Linked DNA regions of Homo sapiens: region 1 is linked to region 2. The links come from fine-mapping of genetic effects on gene expression. Tissue or cell type: whole blood. Region 2 holds a variant in brackets; the other region holds the start of a gene. All regions are shown on one strand. Distances are from middle to middle. Region 1 holds the start of OLFML2B (olfactomedin like 2B). Region 2 overlaps OLFML2B (olfactomedin like 2B).

Region 1 (2,907 bases), 25 kb after region 2:
TGAGCCACCGCGCCCGGCCTACCCATGTATCTCTTATGGTCTTTATCTATAAATGGGTATTAGGGTGTTTTGAAGATTGAGTCAGAAAAAACAAGTTTAAGTACTTGGTAAACGGACACTTTACGAAGCCCATCACTATCATGGGTTACTCGGGCCCCCACTGACAGTCTGCCCTAGCTGCCTGCATCTGCATTCCCACTCTCCCCTCCCAGTACACTCCGTCATGTTCTCAGTCTCTCTGTTTGGGGGTCACCTCACATTCATCACACATGCTTCTGTTCTGACTTCACCCCATGCTCCCGCCTGGTGTCCCACCCTCTGCCATAAAGTATCTCCCGATGGGATATGCCATCTGCCTCCTGGTCAACATATCCGGCTGTTTTCACATTCCAATTCTGACAGACAGCCACATAGACAAGAGATACTTTTTACAACCCTGAAACCAAAAACAACTTTGTTTTCTTTCTTCTCAAGAAGTCGAGCGGCATCTTCCCTTCCTTCACCTCTCCTTTCTCCTGATTTGATGACCTTTAAGCACCCTATGATTTTGCGAGGAGAACCTATATCCTTCCATTAAGAAAATATTCCGATACATGAAAAATCAAAAGCCCTTTCCATTGGTAATGGAAGGAAAAACAGCTGCCCTCAAACACTTCAGCAAGGACCAGCTTCTGGCTCTCACCACCATCCAGGGCAAGAAGGGCGGTCGTGGCACTCTGCATCCTACCTGAGATAAAACGTTCTCCTGGTTGTCCGCCTCGTTTTGCAGAGTCTCGTCCTCCGCAGGCGCCACTGTCTGCGCATCTGGGGGCTCGCTTGTCCCTGTGAGGACAATGCTGGACACCCAGGCCGGAACCACAATCAGAGCGAAGTAGAGAACTAGCAGCCGAGGCTTGGCCATGAGGGGCGCGATAAGAGTGTCCTCAGCCCCTTCAGAGAATGGCTGGGGCGGGGGGTCTCGGCAAGGACTTCTGCGAGAGGGTGTCCTCGCTAGAGCCCGAAAGTGGCTGCTGAGAGCACCTTCTAAAGCTGGGTGCGGCTGAGCGGGACGGGAGGGTGCGCCCCAGAGACTCTGGGCATCTCCTTCCCGACGCGAGCAGCCCTCGACTGTGCAGCCCCAGTGGAGAGCCGGACGCAAGGAAGAGGGGATGACGGAGAAGGTGGAGGCGGGCACGGGCTAGCTGAGCGAGTCGCCCGCAGGAGGGCTCAGGTGGCTGGAAGGCGTTCGGACAGACGCCCGCGGTGCGCGCCGGGACGGGCGGCGGGGAGCCTCGGGACGCACGGGGACCGGACACGGGGAGGGAAGAGGCGGTGGCGGCGCGGGCTGCTGGGCGAGGGCTGCTGGGCTAGGGAGCCGCGGAGAGCTCGCGCGGAAGGAGGGCGGAGCCTCTATTGTGCCGGGGCGGCGGAGATGCAGCCAGTGACCGCGCGGAGGAGGAGGACCTGGAAGCGCACAGGGCTCGGGCGGAGGGGTACCCGGCGGACCCCGTCCCCGCTGGGACTCAGCTGCCGCGCGCCGGCTGAGGGTGACGTTGGAAGGGCTTTACTTTCTTCTCATCTGATCGCAAGTGAGTGAAGAGAAGTTACTCCGAGCGGCGTCCCTGAAGTTTTGGGGTTCGACCATTCTTGGCGAGAAGAGCGACTTTCCATCGCAGGCACCCAGCGCTCGCTCCAAGGCTGAGCTAGTTAGGGATCTGCGGCATCGTCCTTTAGCACACCTGGGGCAGGGGAGAAGGCGCGTTTGTTCCCAGGCGTTTCTTTTCCCTGACTTAACTCTGGGCGAGTTCTCGGGCAGCTTTGAACTTAGCGCCGTTGGTAGCTGCTTGCCTGCCACGGCTTTAGAACCTAGTAATACCTCCACCCAGAGGAAAATCATTGAATTCCTTCCTAGAGTGTGTCCTGAGTTGTGTAAACGTTGAAAGTTAGGGGAATGACTGTACATCTCCGACACTCTCCGCGAGTCCCCATGGGGAAAGCTACTGCCTGATAAATGATTACCAAAGGGAACAGCTCTTCCTGTCTTCCTGGTTTGGGACAAATCTCCGGGTCTCTGTTACCAGATTATCTCTAAGAGGGAGTCCACTTTCAATAGTGTGCAATTATGTTACTATGTCCCTCAATTACTGAGGACAACCTTTTATAAACCTACAGTGAAGATTACCAATATGTGAATTTAAGGAAGGGCACTGTGCCATCCTGGACAACTGTCACTCGGAATATTGAACAGAGCCAGGCCCCTTCAAAGGATATTATGCACCCTTGGGAAATTCAAACACCTTGCTTCTTATGCTGAGGAATAAGGGTTGTAATAAACTAAGGAAACTAGCGCATATAAGTAATAGTTGACATAAGTATAATAATAACCCTTATTAGTATATTTTAATCTTCAAAAAATTCAGTTTATGGACAAAAATTCAATGCTCTGGGTGTCTAGGTTTGTGGGGACATCATGCACACACCCTCCTCTGTGTAAGCTATCAAATCTTTTCTGAAACTATATGGGGGTAAACATTGATAAAATGTGGTGTATTTGATTGTTTGTTTGAGACAGAGTCTTGCTCTGCCACCCAGGCTGGAGTGCAGTGGCGGGATGATCTTGGCTCACTGCAACCTCCGCCTCCTGGGTTCAAGTGATTCTCGTGCCTCGACCTTCAGAGTACCTGGGATTACAGGCGCACGCCACCATGCCCGTTTAATTTTTTGTATTTTTACTAGAGTTGGGGTTTCGCCGTGTTGCCAGGCTGGTCTCGACCTCCTGGCCTCAAGCCATCCATCCGCCTTGCCCTCCCAAAGCACTGGGATTACAGGGGTGAGCCACTGTGCCCCACCGATAAAGTGTAGTTTTAAAATTCAGTTAAGGGGCGGAGTGTGGTGGCTCACCCCTGTAATCTCTACTGAAAATACAAA
Region 2 (2,907 bases):
GGTTGCTGGGTGGCTGTGTGGGCCACAGTGGTGGCTGGTACCTGAGGAGAAGGCTGCAGGACTGACTCCCTTGTGGGATCTGGAGACACCGAGGTTGTTTGGAGTGTTGGTCCCACTGAGGCATGGTTGGCGATGCTGGGATCTGAGGTCGAGGGCTGTGGCAGTGCTGAGGACCAGGGTGCGGTCCGAGCGTTCAGGTCGCTTGTCACAGCAGTGCTGTGTCCCTGACGGGTGGCTGCAGGCCTCCGGGTGACACTGGTCATCAGGCCGTTGTGTCTCAGGAGCTGATCTTCAATCAGCAAATCCACTCCATTGTCACCGCTGAAAAACTCATCTTCTGTGAAACAAACACAAGGTTCACTGTGGCACGGGAAAGAAACAACCTACAGATGACAAGAGCACATGGCAATGAGCAGGTGAATTAGAGGGTGCCTTTCCTTAACACGACGGCTTGAGTTACAGAGGGGGCCTGGCTGGGATTTTGGAAGAAGGTGTACAGGAGCGCAGGTGGAAGGACATTGAATTTCCAGGGGGTTTCTCTGAATAGACTGCAGCCATGCTCCCCCCAGGACTCAGGGGTCACTGGCAGGACGCATAGTCATGGGTCCTGAACCCCGATGGCTGGGAGTAAGTGAGTCATCCAATCCATCCTTCCAGCACATGTTTATGGAGTATGGATAACAACAGCAAGCAAAACAAGGATCCTTGACCTCACAGAGCTTCTATATAGTGGTGGAGACGCTTGATAATAGACAGGATTGTGCACCTGAAGGTGCTATGGGGAACAAAATGTAGGGTAAAGAGGGTCAAACAAGCTAGAAGGGAAGGGAAACTTGCAGAGAAGAATAAAGTGGTGAGGATGAGACTCATTGAGCTGGGGAGATGAGCAGCTGCCTGGAGGAGGTGAAGGAGTCAGCTGAGCAGCCATCGGGCACAAAGATTCCATGGGTGAATAACCACAGAGAAAAGGCCCTGAGGCAGGACATGCGTGCAGCGGCCCAGGAGCAGCGAGGTGGCCAGCATGACTGAAGCAGAGGCAAGGTCACAGTGAGGACAGGCGCTGGGCATGCATGACTTAGAGGCTGTGTATGGAGTTCAGTTTTTATTCTGAAAGAAATGGGGGAGGCTGCAGGATTTTGAGCAGAGATGGAATATGGAGAGGCAAACATTTCTTAGAGAGGACACAAAGAGCTCTAACCACAAAAGAAATAATTGGTAAAGTAGACTTCATGTGCTCATCAAAAACACCATTAAGGAACTAAAAATGCATGCCATAGGTAGGGAGAAAATACTTGCAATACATATGATGGCAAAGAACTTGTATCCAGAATATGTAAAAAACTACCACAAATCAATGACACAAAAAAAATGACCAAAAAAAACACATGGGCAAAATGATGACGCCAGCTACTGGGTGGAGAATAAACATGGTGGAGGCAAAGGCAGAAGCAAGGAGACAGACAGGAAGCTGCTGCATCAGCCCTGATGGGGAAGGACTCGCTCAGACATACTGGGGAGA[G/A]GGGAAGAGTCGGGGCCTGCTGGGAGTGCTGGGCAAGGAAAAGAAAGAAGACAAGAGGAGGAGGAGGAGGCGAGGAGGAGCACAGGAAGAGGAAGAAGCCTAAGGAAACAAGGTAAACGTGATGTGAAAAGGGATCGTCTCTCTTCCATGAAAAATGAAGAAGGACAGAGATCAAAGGGGAGGTGCTGGAGACTCAGACAGGAAGCTCAGGGCCCCCGGAGGGAGGAGCAAGTATTGGAGAAGCCCACCTTGTGGCTCTAAGCAAGTCAGTCTCCCCAAACCTCAGTTTTCTCATCTGCAAATGGGGAGGACTGTACTGGAGGGCACTGAAGTCCCTTCCAGCCCAGCCACACTCTGCCATATGGTCTTCTGCAAGCTCAGAGAAGTTAAGTGACTTGCCCAAGGCCACTCAGCGAGCTGTGAGGAAATGCAGTGAGAGCTCTGGATAACAGGGCCACAGCAGTAATTGGAATGCTGTGTATGGAGGGGTGTATGGCTCCCAGGAATCCAGCCCACTATGGTCCAAATGGTGACTTCCTCCCTACCCTGCCTCTGGGGCGGCCCTGTTGACCCCAACTCACGCTGCTCTTCAATGTCATTCTCTTCTTCAGAGACCTTGGCTTTATAGTAGGTGATGCCCCGGATGACAGTGGGCTGGGAGGCCGGCCGGCCTCTCAGGTGGACCTGCCTCTGCAGGGGCCGCTGTGACTTCACCACCTCAGGCAGAGCCAGGGGTCGCGTCTGCAGAAGTTCGATGGAGTTGATCTGCTGGGACACGGTTTCTTCCTGCAGAAACCGCTCTTCATACTGCTCCTCAGAGGGGACACAAGGGAAGGTCAGGTCACTGGTCAGAGAGGCAGTGGGCAGGTGGGGGCAAGGCTGGAGCCAAGGCTGTGCTAATAACAGCAGCACTTCCGAAGAGCCAGGCACTGTTCTAAGTGCTTTATACATTTACATATGTTAACTAATTTAATCTTCTCATCAGTTCTATGAGGTAGGACATATTTTTATCATGATCATTTACAGTTCAGGAAACTGAGGCACAGAGAGGTTACATAAATTTCCCAAGGTCCCACAACAGGTAAGTGGTAAGGCAGATTGAAGCCAGGATGTCTGGTTCCAGAATCAGTGTCGCTATGCTTGACGTATACTGCCCAGAGAATGCAGTCCTCCTCTTGGATCTGGCCTAGGGATGCTGGGTGACTTAGATCTGGTGTAAGTTGTTTTGGGTGAGATCCATGTGAGGGGAAGGATGCCTGGGCTGGGACATGAAGCCCAAGGACCAGGATGCACACCGCCTCAGGATGAAGCTTGTTACAGCAATCAAAATGGGCTTCCTAAAACACATATCACCCCCAGCCCCCAAACCCTTCCTCCTACATACAGAA

Evidence for each region. PIP is the estimated chance that this variant, and not a neighbour inherited with it, causes the effect.
Region 1: it holds the start of OLFML2B, and the variant in region 2 is fine-mapped to the expression of OLFML2B in whole blood (TOPMed, PIP above 0.99). The same link has a PIP of 0.9 or more in blood mononuclear cells.

What each region holds. Positions count from the first base shown.
Region 1 is chr1:162,022,530-162,025,436 of GRCh38, forward strand. OLFML2B (olfactomedin like 2B) reads right to left here and starts at 1,340. Exons shown (of 8, transcript NM_015441.3): 1 at 728-1,340. The coding sequence starts at 901. RefSeq lists silencers at 1,452-1,601, 1,670-1,964.
Region 2 is chr1:161,998,013-162,000,919 of GRCh38, forward strand. OLFML2B (olfactomedin like 2B) reads right to left here. Exons shown (of 8, transcript NM_015441.3): 5 at 2,101-2,326; 6 at 1-337. Among named protein-coding and RNA genes, the nearest start is that of OLFML2B, 24 kb to the right of the region's middle. The variant G/A (reference allele first, on the strand shown) is at 1,520.